2 separate regions of the Homo sapiens genome follow, and region 1 is linked to region 2. Evidence: fine-mapped expression QTL. A gene starts in region 2. The other region holds a variant in brackets. All regions are shown on one strand. Distances are between the middles of the regions.

Evidence for each region.
Region 1: its variant is fine-mapped to the expression of SLC52A2 in caudate (GTEx, PIP 0.97).

Annotation. Positions count from the first base shown.
Region 1 is chr8:144,391,917-144,400,156 of GRCh38, reverse strand. It overlaps ADCK5 (aarF domain containing kinase 5), which reads right to left. Exons shown (of 15, transcript NM_174922.5): 10 at 8,135-8,216; 11 at 7,987-8,065; 12 at 7,812-7,903; 13 at 7,460-7,712; 14 at 7,265-7,381; 15 at 6,915-7,188. The coding sequence ends at 7,083. CPSF1 (cleavage and polyadenylation specific factor 1) reads left to right here. Exons shown (of 38, transcript NM_013291.3): 10 at 72-165; 11 at 289-376; 12 at 447-569; 13 at 654-705; 14 at 784-881; 15 at 955-1,029; 16 at 1,119-1,199; 17 at 1,289-1,378; 18 at 1,519-1,632; 19 at 1,714-1,855; 20 at 2,025-2,203; 21 at 2,278-2,414; 22 at 2,496-2,670; 23 at 2,744-2,950; 15 more. The coding sequence ends at 6,839. It overlaps MIR939 (microRNA 939), which reads left to right and starts at 5,927; the gene lies at 5,927-6,008. MIR1234 (microRNA 1234) reads left to right here; the gene lies at 1-71. RefSeq lists silencers at 4,249-4,462, 5,815-5,976. The variant C/T (reference allele first, on the strand shown) is at 4,608.
Region 2 is chr8:144,354,099-144,362,466 of GRCh38, reverse strand. It overlaps SLC52A2 (solute carrier family 52 member 2), which reads right to left and starts at 3,854. Exons shown (of 5, transcript NM_001363118.2): 1 at 3,402-3,854; 2 at 3,044-3,283; 3 at 1,974-2,844; 4 at 1,754-1,877; 5 at 1,195-1,664. The coding sequence starts at 3,173. The coding sequence ends at 1,452. It overlaps CATSPERQ (catsper channel auxiliary subunit theta), which reads left to right and starts at 7,536. Exons shown (of 6, transcript NM_001280561.2): 1 at 7,536-7,625; 2 at 7,700-7,850; 3 at 8,136-8,230; 4 at 8,318-8,368. The coding sequence starts at 7,700. FBXL6 (F-box and leucine rich repeat protein 6) reads left to right here and starts at 3,995. Exons shown (of 9, transcript NM_012162.4): 1 at 3,995-4,435; 2 at 4,681-4,839; 3 at 4,965-5,028; 4 at 5,346-5,477; 5 at 5,552-5,659; 6 at 5,754-5,867; 7 at 5,936-6,167; 8 at 6,253-6,499; 9 at 6,789-7,036. The coding sequence starts at 4,020. The coding sequence ends at 6,936. RefSeq lists enhancers at 1,846-2,381, 5,603-6,139 and silencers at 3,593-4,032, 4,053-4,272, 7,986-8,095.

The DNA.
Region 1 (8,240 bases), 38 kb before region 2:
GGGTGGCTGGGGCGGGGGGGGCCCGGGGACGGCTTGGGCCTGCCTAGTCGGCCTGACCACCCACCCCACAGGCACCCAGGAGGGTGTGCGGATCACCCTGGACTGCGCCCAGGCCACCTTCATCTCCTACGACAAGATGGTCATCTCCCTCAAGGGCGGCGAGATGTGAGCCCCTCCCCCGCCCATGAACTCTGCCCACACCGCCCCCCACAAGTCCTGTAGGGTCCCCTGGCCCCCTTCACTCCCCCAGGGTCCCCATCCCCGACTCAGAATTCTCCCTGCCCCCAGCTACGTGCTGACCCTCATCACCGACGGCATGCGCAGTGTCCGAGCGTTCCACTTTGACAAGGCGGCCGCCAGCGTCCTCACCACCAGCGTGAGTTGGGACTAGGGGTTGGGTCTGGGTCCAGACCCGGCCCAGCCATCACACACCTGCCCTCCCTCAGATGGTCACCATGGAGCCCGGGTACCTGTTCCTGGGTTCTCGCCTGGGCAATTCCCTCCTCCTCAAGTACACGGAGAAGCTGCAGGAGCCCCCGGCCAGTGCTGTCCGTGAGGCTGCCGACAAGGTGGGTTTCCTGGGCCCATTGGGCCACCACCCTTCATGTGGGCACTGCTGTGGCATGCCACTCAGTGCCCCTCCTGCCTCACAGGAAGAGCCTCCCTCAAAGAAGAAGCGAGTGGATGCGACGGCCGGCTGGTCAGGTGAGGGCCGGTCCAGGGCTGGTCAGGAGCGGGGCCAGGTGACCCAGGGCTGCGCTCAAGTGGGCTCTCTGTGTGCAGCTGCGGGTAAGTCGGTGCCGCAGGATGAGGTGGACGAGATTGAAGTGTACGGCAGCGAGGCCCAGTCGGGAACACAGCTGGCCACCTACTCCTTTGAGGTGAGATTGAGGCAGCAGGGCCCCCGTCCCAGCCAGCGCCCCCAGCGGGCCCCTGACTCTTGCTGTGCCGCAGGTGTGTGACAGCATCCTGAACATTGGACCCTGTGCCAATGCCGCCGTGGGCGAGCCTGCCTTCCTCTCTGAAGAGGTGCCCAGGGTTGGGGTCGGGGCTGGGGGCAGGGGCTGGAGTGTGAGGGGGGGTGGGGGGCATAGTCCTCACCCCCGAGTCCTGTGCAGTTTCAGAACAGCCCCGAGCCGGACCTGGAGATTGTGGTTTGCTCCGGCCACGGGAAGAACGGGGCTTTGTCGGTGCTGCAGGTGTGTGGGCAGGTAGGGGGCGGGCGCCTCCTGGTGGGACCTGGGTGGGCTCACACCCCCATCACACCCCCACCCCATCATCATTCTAGAAGAGCATCCGGCCCCAGGTGGTGACAACCTTTGAGCTTCCCGGCTGCTATGACATGTGGACAGTCATCGCCCCGGTGCGTAAGGAGGAGGTAGGTGCGAGCCTGCTGCAGGGAGGCCCTGGGATGGGACCGGCGCTGCCTTCTCATAGGCCGGGGGTGCCCAGGTCGCACCTGCGTGCCTGCCTTCACTGGACTGTGGCTTCCAGCCTGCCCCCCTTTGGCCCTGACAGGAGGACAATCCCAAGGGGGAGGGCACAGAGCAGGAACCCAGCACCACCCCTGAAGCAGACGACGACGGCCGCAGACACGGATTCCTGATTCTGAGCCGGGAAGACTCCACCATGGTGAGGGGCAGGGCCTGGGACCTGGGACCTGGGGCTGGGGTCCCCTGCGGGGGGCGCCTCCCTCACAGCTGTCGCCCGCAGATCCTGCAGACGGGGCAGGAGATCATGGAGCTGGACACCAGTGGCTTCGCCACTCAGGGCCCCACGGTCTTTGCTGGGAACATCGGGGACAACCGCTACATTGTCCAAGTGTCACCACTGGGCATCCGCCTGCTGGAAGGAGGTAGGTGGGGGGGGTGGTTGGGCCCTGGGCATCTGCCTGCTGGAAGGAGGTAGGTGGGTGGGGACGGTGGGGGGGAGGTGGTTGGGCCCTGGGCATCCGCCTGCTGGAAGGAGGTAGGTGGGTGGGGACGGTGGTGGGGAGGCGCATGCTGACTGCCCCATGCCTACAGTGAATCAGCTGCACTTCATCCCCGTGGACCTGGGCGCCCCCATCGTGCAGTGCGCCGTGGCCGACCCCTATGTGGTCATCATGAGTGCCGAGGGCCACGTCACCATGTTCCTGCTGAAGAGTGACTCCTACGGTGGCCGCCACCACCGCCTGGCGCTGCACAAGCCCCCGCTGCACCATGTAGGCCCCCTCATTCCCGGCGCCCTCCTGTCCCTGCCCCTTGCCCGCCGCTGAGCCCACCCCTCTCCCCGCAGCAGTCCAAGGTGATTACGCTGTGCCTGTACCGAGACCTCAGCGGCATGTTCACCACTGAGAGCCGCCTGGGTGGGGCCCGTGACGAGCTCGGGGGCCGCAGTGGCCCGGAGGCCGAGGGCCTGGGCTCAGAGACTAGGTGCGTGGGGGCTGGGGGCGCAGGTAGGGGCTTGGGTCCCTGGGGCTGGCAGGCCGCCCATGACCTTCTGCTGGCCCCCAGCCCCACAGTGGATGACGAGGAGGAGATGCTGTATGGGGATTCGGGCTCCCTCTTCAGCCCCAGCAAGGAGGAGGCCCGAAGAAGCAGCCAGCCCCCTGCTGACCGGGACCCTGCACCCTTCCGGGCAGAGCCTACCCACTGGTGCCTGCTGGTGCGGGAGAATGGCACCATGGAGGTAGGTGGTGCCCTGCACTGTGGCCCAGCGGGTTCCACCCACCTGCCTCCACTGACTGCTGCCCACCCTGCAGATCTACCAGCTTCCCGACTGGCGGCTGGTGTTCCTGGTGAAGAACTTCCCTGTGGGGCAGCGGGTCCTTGTGGACAGCTCCTTTGGACAGCCCACTACACAGGGCGAGGCCCGCAGGGAGGAGGCCACGCGCCAGGGGGAGCTGCCCCTCGTCAAGGAGGTGCTGCTGGTGGCGCTGGGCAGCCGCCAGAGCAGGCCCTACCTGCTGGTGAGTGCGCCTGGCCTGGCCTCCCCTTCCCATCTTCCCCCTGGCCCTGCCCGTTCCCCCACAGCCCCGCCCCTTCCCGTGGCTCCACCCCATCTCCCCCACGGCCCCGCCCCTTCCCGTGGCTCCACCCCATCTCCCTCACAGCCCCGCCCCTTCCCATACATGGCTCCACCCCATCTCAGCCCCGCCCCTTACCCACAGCCCACCTCTTCCCATGGCCCATCCCATGTTCTCCATGGCCCTGCCCGTTCCCCCATGGCTCCCCTCATCCTGCCAGGTGCATGTGGACCAAGAGCTGCTTATCTACGAGGCCTTCCCCCACGACTCTCAGCTCGGCCAGGGCAATCTCAAAGTCCGCTTTAAGAAGGTGCCAGTGGCTGGACTGCTGGGGCGTGGGGTGGGTGTGGTACAAGGTGTGGGTTTCAGACCGGCAGCCCCTGGAGGACCTGCATGGTTCCCCCCCAGGTCCCTCACAACATCAACTTCCGTGAGAAGAAGCCAAAGCCATCCAAGAAGAAAGCAGAAGGTGGCGGCGCAGAGGAGGGGGCTGGGGCCCGGGGCCGCGTGGCGCGTTTCCGCTACTTCGAGGATATTTATGGCTACTCAGGGGTAGGCCAGCGCCTTTGCAGGGGTCTGTGGTAGAAGGGAGACGCGGCCTCATCCGCAGCATCCTCATCCACAGCATCCTCACGGTGCCTGCCCCCAGGTCTTCATCTGCGGCCCCTCCCCTCACTGGCTCTTGGTGACCGGCCGAGGGGCTCTGCGGCTACACCCCATGGCCATCGACGGCCCGGTCGACTCTTTCGCTCCATTCCACAATGTCAACTGTCCCCGCGGCTTCCTGTACTTCAACAGACAGGTGGGGCCCGGCCGGTTCCCAGCAGCACTGGCTGATGCTGCCCCAGCTGGGGGCTGAGGGGGAGGGGACAGGAGAAGGGACCATTGGCTCCACCCTGAGGACCAGGAAGGAGTGTCCAGAGGGCGATGGGGTTGAGGTCGAGGAGGTGGAACCTGTGACTTGGTTGCTCCAAAGGTCTGGAAAGGGGTGGTTGGGAGCTGGGGCTGCAGCCCCTGGGGTCCCCACCACTGCTCTGCCGGCTCGCCGGGCAAGCCCTCGCAGGGCCTGGCCTCCACACTTCTCAGGAGAGCTGACGTGAGTGCTAGCTCTGCCCCTTGGCTGCTCTGTGACTTTGGGAGGGCACACAGGCTTTCTCATCCTGGTTCCCTATTTAAGCCACCACACCACCAGGTCACTTGAGACCCTGCCTGGGATGCGGTGAGTGCTTCCTGGGTGCCTGAGGACTCAGGACTGTCCATGAAAGAGGGCAGCCCTGGCTCCCTCTGCCTGGTTTTCAGTCCCCAGCATGGCAGTCTGTGGGCTGCCCTTTGCAGCCTCCAGTGCCCTCCTGGCCTAGCTTTCCCATCCCCTGTGGCCAGCACCCCTAGCCCCAGCTGAGCGTGGGAAAATGGACAGGAGGAGCCCCAGAGGCTGAGTGGCAGCCCCTTCCAGGACCTCGCCAGGACACAGCTGCCCCTCACCCACCCCTGCTCCCACAGAGCTGAGGGCAACATCCCAGGGCTCTTGGCGGCCTGGGCCTGCCTGCCCCTGCCCTTGGCTAGCCCTGGATCCCCTGACCCCTGTGCCCCCACCCCAGGG[C/T]GAGCTGAGGATCAGTGTCCTGCCTGCCTACCTGTCCTATGATGCCCCATGGCCTGTCAGGAAGATCCCGCTGCGCTGCACGGCCCACTATGTGGCTTACCACGTGGAGTCTAAGGTCTGCCCCCACCCCCACCCCACCAGGGACCTTCTGGGCCTGGCCGGGCCACTGGTGTGTGACCCTCACTAACCCACAGGTGTATGCTGTGGCCACCAGCACCAACACGCCGTGTGCCCGCATCCCACGCATGACTGGCGAGGAGAAGGAGTTTGAGACCATCGAGAGAGGTGGTGACGCCCACACCATACTCCCATCCTCAGCCGCATCTTGGGGAAGCCCTACTCTGACTGTCACCCTTGGTCCCCACAGATGAGCGGTACATCCACCCCCAGCAGGAGGCCTTCTCCATCCAGCTCATCTCCCCGGTCAGCTGGGAGGCTATTCCCAATGCCAGGTGAGGCTGGGCCGGCGGGGGTGGGGTCTGCCCAAGGCCTCCAGGCAGCATCCTGAGGCCCCTGGCCCCCACAGGATCGAGCTGCAGGAGTGGGAGCATGTGACCTGCATGAAGACAGTGTCTCTGCGCAGTGAGGAGACCGTGTCGGGCCTCAAAGGCTACGTGGCCGCCGGGACCTGCCTCATGCAGGGGGAGGAGGTCACGTGCCGAGGGCGGGTAAGGGGCCAGTGAGCGGGGGCGGGAACTGGCAGCCCCTCTGCCATCCCCACAGCCATCCCACAGCCATACCCATGCCCTCCAGATCTTGATCATGGATGTGATTGAGGTGGTGCCCGAGCCTGGCCAGCCCTTGACCAAGAACAAGTTCAAAGTCCTTTACGAGAAGGAGCAGAAGGGGCCCGTGACCGCCCTGTGCCACTGCAATGGCCACCTGGTGTCGGCCATCGGCCAGAAGGTGTGCCAGTCCCACCCGGCGTGTGTCCCCCGGCTCACCCTCACCCGGCTCCCCGTCCGCGCCCGCTCACCCTCGCCCTCGCCCCCAGATTTTCCTGTGGAGCCTGCGGGCCAGCGAGCTGACGGGCATGGCCTTCATCGACACGCAGCTCTACATACACCAGATGATCAGCGTCAAGAACTTCATCCTGGCAGCCGACGTCATGAAGAGCATTTCGCTGCTGCGCTACCAGGAGGAAAGCAAGACGCTGAGCCTGGTGTCGCGGGTACACCTGTGGCGGCGGTGCTCGTGTCTGGGTGGGTACCCGCCCAAGGCACCTCTGACGCCCCCTTCCCGCCCCCAGGATGCCAAGCCCCTGGAGGTGTACAGCGTGGACTTCATGGTGGACAATGCCCAGCTGGGTTTTCTGGGTATGTGGGCAGGGCCCTGGGGAGCTGAGGCTCTGGGGGTGGCCGGGGCTGACCCTGGGCCTCTGCTCCCCAGTGTCTGACCGCGACCGCAACCTCATGGTGTACATGTACCTGCCCGAAGGTGAGTGCTTCCTCCACCCCCTCTGCCTGGGCCGGGGCTGGGCTAGCAGTGACCCCTAGGCCTTTCTGGTCTAGCCAAGGAGAGTTTCGGGGGCATGCGCCTGCTGCGTCGGGCAGACTTCCACGTGGGTGCCCACGTGAACACGTTCTGGAGGACCCCGTGCCGGGGGGCCACTGAAGGGCTCAGCAAAAAGTCGGTCGTGTGGGAGAATAAGCACATCACGTGGTTTGGTGAGTGTGGGGGAGCAGGTGTGTCTGGGTGGGGGGCCCTAGGGTTGGCCTGGCTCACACCAAAACCCTCACCCTACCCCTGCCAGCCACCCTGGACGGCGGCATCGGGCTGCTGCTGCCCATGCAGGAGAAGACCTACCGGCGGCTGCTGATGCTGCAGAACGCGCTGACCACCATGCTGCCACACCACGCCGGCCTCAACCCCCGCGCCTTCCGGTGAGCCCCGGCCCCGCCCCCGTGCAGCACCCCCTCCACCCCAGCCTGCCCTGACACCTGTGCCTGTACGCCCCAGGATGCTGCACGTGGACCGCCGCACCCTCCAGAATGCCGTGCGCAACGTGCTGGATGGGGAGCTGCTCAACCGCTACCTGTACCTGAGCACCATGGAGCGCAGCGAGCTAGCCAAGAAGATCGGCACCACACCAGACATAGTGAGTGCGCGCCCCGCCCCCCGCGCGCCCCGCCCCTCCGTGTGCATCCCCACCCACCCACCCACCCACCCTTCCATCCCCTGCAGATCCTGGACGACTTGCTGGAGACGGACCGCGTCACCGCCCACTTCTAGCCCCGTGGATGCCGTCACCACCAGCACACGGAACTACCTCCCACCCCCTTTTTGTACAAAACACAAGGAAAAACATTTTTTGCTTGAGAGGAGTGTGTGGTCATTACACGGCCTCCTGGCCCAGCTGCTGTCACAGCCCCCCAGTGCGAGTGCCCACGGGGCTCGGGGTGTCTACACCTCTAGCCCCGCCACCTCCGTCAGCCCAAGGTGAAAAGGGCCCCGCCGGCCCTGGGCGGCTGCACCCTAGGTCTCCAGGTACTGGTAGAGCTCCTCCGCTGGGGGCACGAGGCTCAGGTGGACCAGAGCACGAGCCAGGAGGGCGGTCAGCCGCATGGCCAAGGTCTCCAGCCTGCGTGGGTCAGGTCACAGGTCACAGGTGGGTGGGGAGCAGGCCCCCGCCACCCACCTGCCCCGCGGCCACTCACCTGAGCGCCACTTCAAACTTGAGCATCTCCCAGACGACCTTGGCGTGGCGCAGGAGGCTGGTGCCGTAGACACCCCGATACGTGGCGCCCGCCAGGCGGCTCCAGCCCCGGACAGCCCTGCACACACCCGCGTTAGCGCCGCGTCAGCCCCACACCAGCCCCACCACGGCCCGGGCGCCTCCTCGGGCCACCGACCTTTTAGCCATAAGGAAGTAGCGGTCCACGGGGGCGCCGAGGGCCACGTTGATAGCGCGCACGGTGTTGATGTTGCGCAGCACCAGCAGCATGGGCCGCGGCAGCTCCCTGAGCACCGCCATGACGGCCTCGAAGCGCTCGCGGGCCATGTCCACCATGTAGGCCGCCTCTTCGCGGCTCAGTAGGTGCGAGCCCCACAGCTGCCCCAGGCGCACGGGGCGCTGCATGAGCATCTCGGCGAACAGGAGGTAGTCTGGGGAGGGAGGGAGGGAGGGAGGGAGGGGGCTCTGAGTGGGTTCCGCGCCGCCCGACTCCCTTCTGTGGTGCCCCAGCCATCCCCGCACGCCCTCACCTTGCACCCCCAGTGCGGCTGCGTGCGCCCTCATGGCGGCGTCGTCCCGCAGGATGATGGCCCGCCACAGCTGGCAGAGGGCTGCGCGGTCCCTGGGTGTGGATGGGCCCGCAGCCATGAGCTCCCTGCGGCAGGAGAGGCTTGCCCTGCCCCACGCCCACCCACCCGCGCTCACTTCTCCTCCAGGAACTGGTAGAGCCCGTGGTCCAGCAGCACCAGCTCCGCTTTCCCGTCCGGGCCTTTCCGCACCAGAACTAGGGATACAGCCTCTTAGGTCGCGCTGCGCCCACCCTGAGACCCCCACCCCTGGGGTAAATTCCTACCGTTGCCAGGATGTGGGTCCGAGTGGATGAAGCCGGTGTAAAATATCTGCTCAGCAAAGGCCTTGATGAGCTTTTCTGCTATCTGGGGAGAGGAGAGGCATTGCAG
Region 2 (8,368 bases):
AGGCTTTCCGGGTCACAGGGGCTCCTTCCTCCTCTGATGGTCCTGCCAAGACAGGAGGGAGCAGAAGTGGGGAGGAAGACCAGGCCTTCAAAGGCCCGTGTGCAGGCCAACTCAAGGACAATGAGAAAGGGCCTCCGCAGAGCGGAACCGTCGCAGACAGAGCTTGGGCAGCAGGAACAGACCCACCATCCCCAGTGCCTGCACGCTCCCTGTAGCTGCAGGGGCCCTTCTGCAGAAGTGGGGCCTCTTGCCTGGGAGAATGGGCCTTGCTGCCAGGCCCGTCATACTGATCACAGTTCGGTGTCCTGCCTCCCTGGGGTGGCGGCCCACGAGGTGAAGAAAGCCAGGCTCCTACCTTGGCGTGGTCTCTCCCAGCACTTTCTTCCAGATCCTTGCTCCCAGGCTCAGGGGCTCCTCTCAGTTAGTTCCTTTGCAGCTCCAGCTCTTTTTGTGGGAGCCCAAGAACCACCCAGCCCAGGATAGACCATGGTCAGTGCTGAGGTCCTGCTCCCTGCAGATGCCAACACATACAGGCCCAGGCTGCTCAGGGCTAGGGGCAGTGTGCCAGCAGCCCAGGGAGAAGACAGCTGTAGCCAAGTCTGCCTGAAGAAACAGTTTGGGGCCTTTGGGGGTCTGATTGCAGGAGGAGCTGTCACTGAGAGGGTGGAGGCTCAGGGGAGTGGGGTAATGCTCAGGCCAAACGGTCCCGATGGGCTAAAACCTTAAACTCTGTCTCTTCTGAGTCCCCCTCACTGAGTACCCCGGTGCCTGCACACCAACCCCCTGGTGTAAATCCCTAGCAGGATACTCCTGGGAAGCTAGCAGGCAAACAGTCACTCCAGGGCTAAGGGTGGACAGGGGGCTCGGCACATCGCAGCCCCATCCGACTAACCCTCAGCCCTTGAGAGGTGCTCGTGGAGCAGTGGCCTTGCCGGGAAGAGGCTCCTCTACTCCTCTGACCACCGAAGCTGGTAGCTCGTGTGGGCCCAGAGAGCCCAGGGCAGTTCCAAGAAGCAATGTGGGGTAGTCTGGGCTCAGAGGGCATGACTGTACAATCCGTGAGACCAGCCTGTGGTGGGTAAGGACCTGCCCAGGGCCTGGGGAGAGGCAGCCTGTTAAACAGGCCAGGCCATGGCTCTAGTTCAGGGAAGCATCCACACAGAGAGATGTGCTCAAAGAATTAATGCCAACTCATTAAATACAAATGTTTTATTACGCAAACCACATGTAGGTCCCAGGCTCAGGGGCTTACCCTACAGCCCCCACTGGTCCCTGGCTCCAAGCCTGCTCCTTGCCCTTGCCCACCCTGGAAAGCCAGGATCTCCTATGGAGTGTGTAGGTGTCCACGAGTGTACCGGTGTGCGGGCCTCCTGGGCTGCAGGCACTCAGGCATGGTGGCAGCATTGAGGGAAAGACAGGTGTTGGGGAGCGGGGTCCCCACCTGCCCAGGCTCAGGAGTCACAGGGGTCTGCACAGTCCTTTCTGCTGTGGAACACGTGATAGATGCTGGTCGGGGGGAACATAGCAACAGCGCCGAGCAGAGAGCCCACCTGGATGGCCACGCCGGCTGCCAGCAATGCCGGCCGGCCCCCGCCATGCAGCAGGGAGCTGGCTGCCACCTTCACGTAGGAGAACACGCCAAGACACAGCACCCACGACAGCACCTGAGGGGGACACAGCACCAGCTGAGCGTGAGATGTGCCTGCTCCAGGGCAACGCCCCCCCACCCCACTTCATGTCCCCCTGTGCTCACCACGAGGACCACCCCCGCCGAGGTGCCCACCAGGGGCGGGCAGGGGCTCAGGACTGCCAGCGCCATCAGGTAGCCCCCACAGAACACGCCCAGCAGAGAGAGGCCGCCCAGCCCTGCCAAGGACCTGCAGTGAGCGAGCAGAATGTCAGGGCTGACTGCGCCAGGACCTGGCTCCTAGCCCTGAGTTCCACCCGCACAGGGGCTGGGGGTCCTTGTGTACCTGCACAGCACACCCATGGCCAGGAAGCAGGCCAGGGGATTGGCAGCACTGCCCAGCACCACAGCCAGGTGGTAGGCCAGACGCCCGTAGGGTAAGCAGGAAAAGCTCTGCACGGCAGGCAGCACGCCATTGGTCAGCGCGTTGGTGGCGGCCAACAGGCCCAGCAGGCAGGCACTGCGGGCTGATAGAAGCTGATAGGCCTTAGGGTCTGGACCAGGGGTGGTGCCTGCTGCCTGGCTTGGTGGCTCTTGCAGTGGTGAGGACTCTTCCACCTCTTCCTCTGCTCCTGGGGCTCCCACCTGGAGGCCTGATCCTAACTCCCCTGTGGGTACAGATGGTGGTGGCGGCAACAGCAGCAGAAGACCCTGGAAGGCAGCAGCTGAAGCGACCAGAAGGGCAGTCAGTGCCCAGAAGAAGGTGCTGGCGGGAAAACGCTCAAGGAAGTCGAGCGGGGGGCCAGGGGTGCCGTTGATGGGGGCTGGCGGGCACTCGAGGCGGCCCACACCCTGCACTAGGGCCAGCACGCAGGGCAGCAGGGCACTCAGGCCTTGACCCAGGAAGAATGACCGTAAGAAGCGAGGTGGCAGGTGGCTCAAGAAGGGCAGGAAAGTGACATTCGAGGCACAGCATGCCAGTGCCAGCACAAAGGCCAGTGCTAAGAAGGCCACAGAATGCAACTGTCCTGCCACTGGGGCCACATGGTGCCACAGAGAGGCCAGCAGGGCTGTGCCCACCATGCCCAGCACCTGCACCACCCGGATGGGGACCTGCTCGTCCTTTCCTGGGGCCAGCCTCCTCCAGAGGGTCACCACCAGCAGACCCAGGTTCCCCAGAGCCACAAGCACAGAGACGTAAGAGGGGAGGCTCCAACCTGCAGGGAAGGGAGGAGGCCATGTCAGGGTCATGATGCCCAAGGGAGGAAGAGTGCCAAAGCCCACCTTCCTGGGCACACCTGCACCTCCTCCCACTCACCCTCTGGAAGCTCTCTGACCACCACAGGTAGCTCCACCCAGATCCCACTGACCGCAGCCCAGGAGTCTTGGGCACACCTGCACCTCCCTCCCACTCACCCTCTGGAAGCTCTTTGACCACCACAGGTAGCTCCACCCAGATCCCATTGACCGCAGCCCAGGAGCCCATGCCGAAGAGAGCCACCAGCAGGTGGGTCAGCACCGGACGGGCGGGCGTGGGTGCTGCCATTCAGCCCAAGGCTGGGCCCTTCCAGGTCAGGGCAAAGGTCACAGCCAGTTCTTTTCCCACCTAGGGCCAGACACGCTTTGGCTCTCCTGGGAAGTGAAGACTTCTTCTAGCTTGAAAGAAACAGAGAAACAGATAGGATGCAGAGCCGGAGTCAGAACAGGGTGAGACCAGGGGAACTGGGGGAGCCCCGGGCAGGAGCGCAGATGGGGAGGATTGGCTAAAACGTACCCAGCGGGACCGCCGGCAGGCAGGGAAGCAGGAAGCCGGCCCGAGTCGCTGCGGCCCCAGGGGAGGAGGCCGAAGGAGCGAGTGGAGCCCTCCTCTCCAGGGAGAGGCGGGGCTGGAGTCAACGCCACCACCACCCCAAGCCGGACGCCGGGAAAGGGCGCCTACCAGGAGGAGCCACGCACACCCCAGGGCTTCACGGTGCCCGCGACCGCAAGAGCCAAGTCAGATCCCAGGGGAGTGGCCGGGACGGCTCTGCTCGGAGGGGCGCCGCCCTCTCGGTACCGTCAGGTGGGCGACTCGGGAGCCGTCCGGTCCCTGCGCCTCCCGGTCCCGCGCCCAGTGCGCTCCCGCTCCAGTGCCGGCTTCCCGCCACGCCGGGACACCGCCGTCCGGCCCAGGGACGCCACCTCAGTCCGGAGCGCGCAGGACCCGGCAGCAGCCACGACCCGACTCACCCGTGGCGGTTCCGGGCCCGCCCCCGGCATGGCCCACGACCGGAAGTCCCGCCCCGGAAGCTGGTCGGCGGGCGGGCGGGCGTTGAGAGGAACCGGGGGGTTGTCGGTCTATAAGCCTCGCCCGTTCCGCTCCCTGGGGCTTCCCCGAGCGCCGTCGGTGGTCATGGCTGCCCCAGCCTCCCGGCAGGTCCGACGCAGAGCCCGGGCAGCGCCGCGGCCCCGCTCGGCCGAGGACTGGTGGTGGGACCGGCTGGCGCCGAGGGGCTCGGGGTACCACCTGCTGCAGTCCGACAGCATGCTGCTGGTGCTGTCCGAACCCGGCCCCGCCCGGCCCCGCGCACAGCGGCGCGCTTCCCGCCGCACTCCCCGGCAGCCGCCCCGGGGCCCCAGCGCCGCGGCCAAGCCCAAGGCCGGGCTCAGGTCCGAGGCGGCGGCCGCGCCCGCACCCGCACCGGCACCCACGCCCACGCCCGAGGAAGGGCCCGACGCGGGCTGGGGAGACCGCATTCCCTTGGAAATCCTGGTGCAGATTTTCGGGTTGTTGGTGGCGGCGGACGGCCCCATGCCCTTCCTGGGCAGGTAACGCTGGTGCCGGGCCCGCCGCCGAGCGTAGCGGCTTGGGCCAGACGTGGTCCGAGCGGTGGCCCGGGCGGGGGCGGAGGGCGAAAGCATCGGAGCGCGCACCGCTCAGTCCGAGAGCGCAGCCCCTTAGGCGCCCAGTTGGAGTCCCAGGAGCCCGGCTTTGAGCCGGGGTGTCTACTGCGCTGCGAGAGGGGGGCATCGCCTACGGAGGGGCCGGCACCCTCAGCACGCTGTCCTCCCAGGGCTGCGCGCGTGTGCCGCCGCTGGCAGGAGGCCGCTTCCCAACCCGCGCTCTGGCACACCGTGACCCTGTCGTCCCCGCTGGTCGGCCGGCCTGCCAAGGGCGGGGTCAAGGCGGAGAAGAAGCTCCTTGCTTCCCTGGAGTGGCTTATGCCCAATCGGTGAGGGGTTCCCTCTCTTCCTTACCCCTGGCTCCAGGCTCCTTCCGTCTCCCTGCACCAAGGTGTTGGGTGGGAAGGACTCGTGTGGGAACATTAGTGCAGCTCTGCCTCCGCTGTCGGCCCAGGTTTTCACAGCTCCAGAGGCTGACCCTCATCCACTGGAAGTCTCAGGTACACCCCGTGTTGAAGGTGAGAGCTCCAGGCTGTCCTGCACATCAGCTGTGACACTCTGGGACTGTTCAGTACTCTAGGAAGTGGGTCAGGCACCTTGGGGGCCCAACGCTGCTCCGTGGGGATGTCTGCCTGCCTGCCTGGTTCTCTTTTCCTGCTGTTTCCTCCAGCAGGGAGGTATCAGAGGCGGGGACACCCAAGTAGGCCTGGCATGGGCAGAAAGGAGGTCACAGCTAAGGCGGTAGAGTGGGGTTGGCACCAGCCACTTGTCTGTTTCCCTTGTGGATCTTAGCCTGTCGTCTCCCAACCCCAGCTGCCCCTCTGTCTCCCCGCAGCTGGTAGGTGAGTGCTGTCCTCGGCTCACTTTCCTCAAGCTCTCCGGCTGCCACGGTGTGACTGCTGACGCTCTGGTCATGCTAGCCAAAGCCTGCTGCCAGCTCCATAGCCTGGACCTACAGCACTCCATGGTGAGCCCTGTGTCCCAAGGGGCCCTGAAAAAACCCAGGCCGGGGTGACGGGTGCTCTTGTATTGGGGCCCCAGGTGGAGTCCACAGCTGTGGTGAGCTTCTTGGAGGAGGCAGGGTCCCGAATGCGCAAGTTGTGGCTGACCTACAGCTCCCAGACGACAGCCATCCTGGGCGCACTGCTGGTAAGTTGGCATTGGTGGGAGCAGAGGCAGATGCTGAGCTGGGGACTGCCAGGCCACTGACCCTGTGACCTACCCCCTCCCCCCATCTCTGCAGGGCAGCTGCTGCCCCCAGCTCCAGGTCCTGGAGGTGAGCACCGGCATCAACCGTAATAGCATTCCCCTTCAGCTGCCTGTCGAGGCTCTGCAGAAAGGCTGCCCTCAGCTCCAGGTACCTGGCGCCCTGCCTCTCCCACCTGTCACACCCTCCCCCATCTACAGCCTGGACCTTGCCCCCAGGTGCTGCGGCTGTTGAACCTGATGTGGCTGCCCAAGCCTCCGGGACGAGGGGTGGCTCCCGGACCAGGCTTCCCTAGCCTAGAGGAGCTCTGCCTGGCGAGCTCAACCTGCAACTTTGTGAGCAACGAGGTCCTGGGCCGCCTACTCCACGGCTCTCCCAACCTGCGCTTACTGGATCTTCGTGGCTGTGCGCGCATCACGCCGGCTGGCCTTCAGGATCTGCCATGTCGGGGTCAGCAGTCCTGGGTGGTGGCCGGGCGGGTGAGGTGTGGGGGCCCTTGTCACCTTGTAGCTTATGCTCACTCCTTTCACTGCAGAGCTGGAGCAGCTTCATCTGGGCCTGTATGGCACGTCAGACCGGCTGACTCTAGCCAAGGAGGGCAGCCCCTTTTTGACCCAGAAGTGGTGCCATACACTGCGAGAACTGGACTTGAGTGGCCAGGGGTTCAGTGAGAAGGACCTGGAGCAGGCCCTGGCTGCCTTCTTAAGCACCCCTGGGGGCTCACACCCAGCCCTGTGCTCTCTTAACCTCAGGGGCACCCGGGTCACACCAAGCACTGTCAGGTCAGCATCCCCTACCCCAGTCCCTGGAGCCAGTGTGGCTGTCACTGTGTCTGCCTGGGGCCTGGAAGTTGTGTCCTGCCTGGCCTGAGACCTCCAGGGGTCAGAGGGGCATGCATACTGTCCAAGCCCCTGCGTGGGGTGGGCCTGAGGACACCAGGGGAACTGGGCTTGGCCTTGGTGGCTATGGGTGGCAGAGCCAGGTGTCGAACACCAGCAGGCACAGCTCCCTAGCCTGGCCCAGCCCTTCTGAGGCAACAGCTCAACTTCCTGTGGTCTGCCCTCCCCACAGCTCTGTGATCAGCGGCTGCCCGGGCCTGCTCTACCTCAACCTGGAGTCCTGCCGCTGCCTTCCCCGGGGTCTGAAGCGGGCCTACCGGGGCCTGGAGGAAGTCCAGTGGTGTCTGGAGCAGCTGCTCACCAGCCCCTCACCCAGCTAGGCAGCCACAGACCTGGGACACCTCAGCCAGCTTGCCCACCCTCCACCTTTGCCCAATTTCAGATATTTGAGCATTTTGTTAAAATAAAACATTTTTAGGAGTTCTGTGTGTGTGGTCCTCAGGGTAGGGTTGGGCAACAGGTTATACCTGATGGAGCCACTGGGGCTACAGCCGGCCCAGAGCCTGTGTGTTGTGGGGTCAGGGTGGTCCCATGGGCTCTTGAGCCTGCAGGTGGCCATGCCTTTGCCTGCCCACTGCTGGGTCCAGTGTGTGTGTTCCGTCCTCGGGGACACTGGTGAGCTTGTCTGTGGTTGCATGTGGGTGGGGGGTGGGAGGGGGTGGGGCCCCGCCCAGCTGTGGGGCTCACTGAGTGGTCGCCGCCTGCAAATTTCTCTCCAGCTCAGGCCTAGGGTGTCCACCCATCCACCCTTCACATGGGGACTGTGAACAGGCCATACAGGGGGCCTCCAGTGGATGGACTGGCCAAGAAGTTAATGCCTACCGCAGGACCTCACCCTGGACTCCCTAAGAGGTGGTCAACAGAGCAGCCCCTTCTAGAACCTGCCCAGAACTTCTAGAACCCATCCGCGGTCCACCCTGGGCCGCTCCCTGGCCTCGCTGCCCTGTCAGTCGCCTGTGAGCTCCTGCTCCTTCCTGGGCCTGCAGCCCTGGAGAATTTGCTCACCGAGGTAGGAGTGCCGCTGTGGGCAGTGGGCGGCGGCAGCGGACGAGCGGCCAGGCTGACCACCTCTGCCTGACTCAGATGCCTAAGGGCCGGGCCGGCAGCCTGCCCACGACCTCCATCGGCTGGCGCTTCCAGCTCTGGTTCCTAGGACTCACCTGCCCGGAGCGCCACCTGGCCAGACGCCTCAAGAACAATAGCTTCTACCCATTCGTGCAGCAGGAGCCAAACGGTGCGCGCGAGGCTGGGCGGGGCGGGGCGGGGCGGGGCTGGGAAGGGCGGGGCGGGGGAGGAGGGAGACGGGCCCGAGGCCTGAATGGGGCGGAGCCAGGTGGGCAGAGGCAGGGCCAGGGCCCTGGGTGGGGCCGGCCGGTGCTCCTGGGGACGGAGAGGCCGCAGGCGAGACGTCGCCTCCGCGAGCCCTGCGCGGACCCAGCTAGTCCGGGCCAAGCCTTGGCACCGCCACCCCCGGCTGCGGGCAGGGCCGGGGCGTCCTCACGCGCCGCGCCACCCCCAGTCTTCGTGCTCGAATACTACCTGGACACACTGTGGAAGGGGATGCTGCTCTTCATCATCAGCGTGGTCCTGGTCAGCTTCAGCTCCCTGAGAGAGGTGTGAGCCCCTGGGCCCGACCCCCACCGCCCTCCTCCCCTGAGGGCCGGCCCCGCGCCGCTCAGACTCTCCGCGTGGCGCCCGCAGGTGCAGAAGCAAGAGACCTGGGTCTTCCTCGTGTACGGCGTGGGCGTGGGC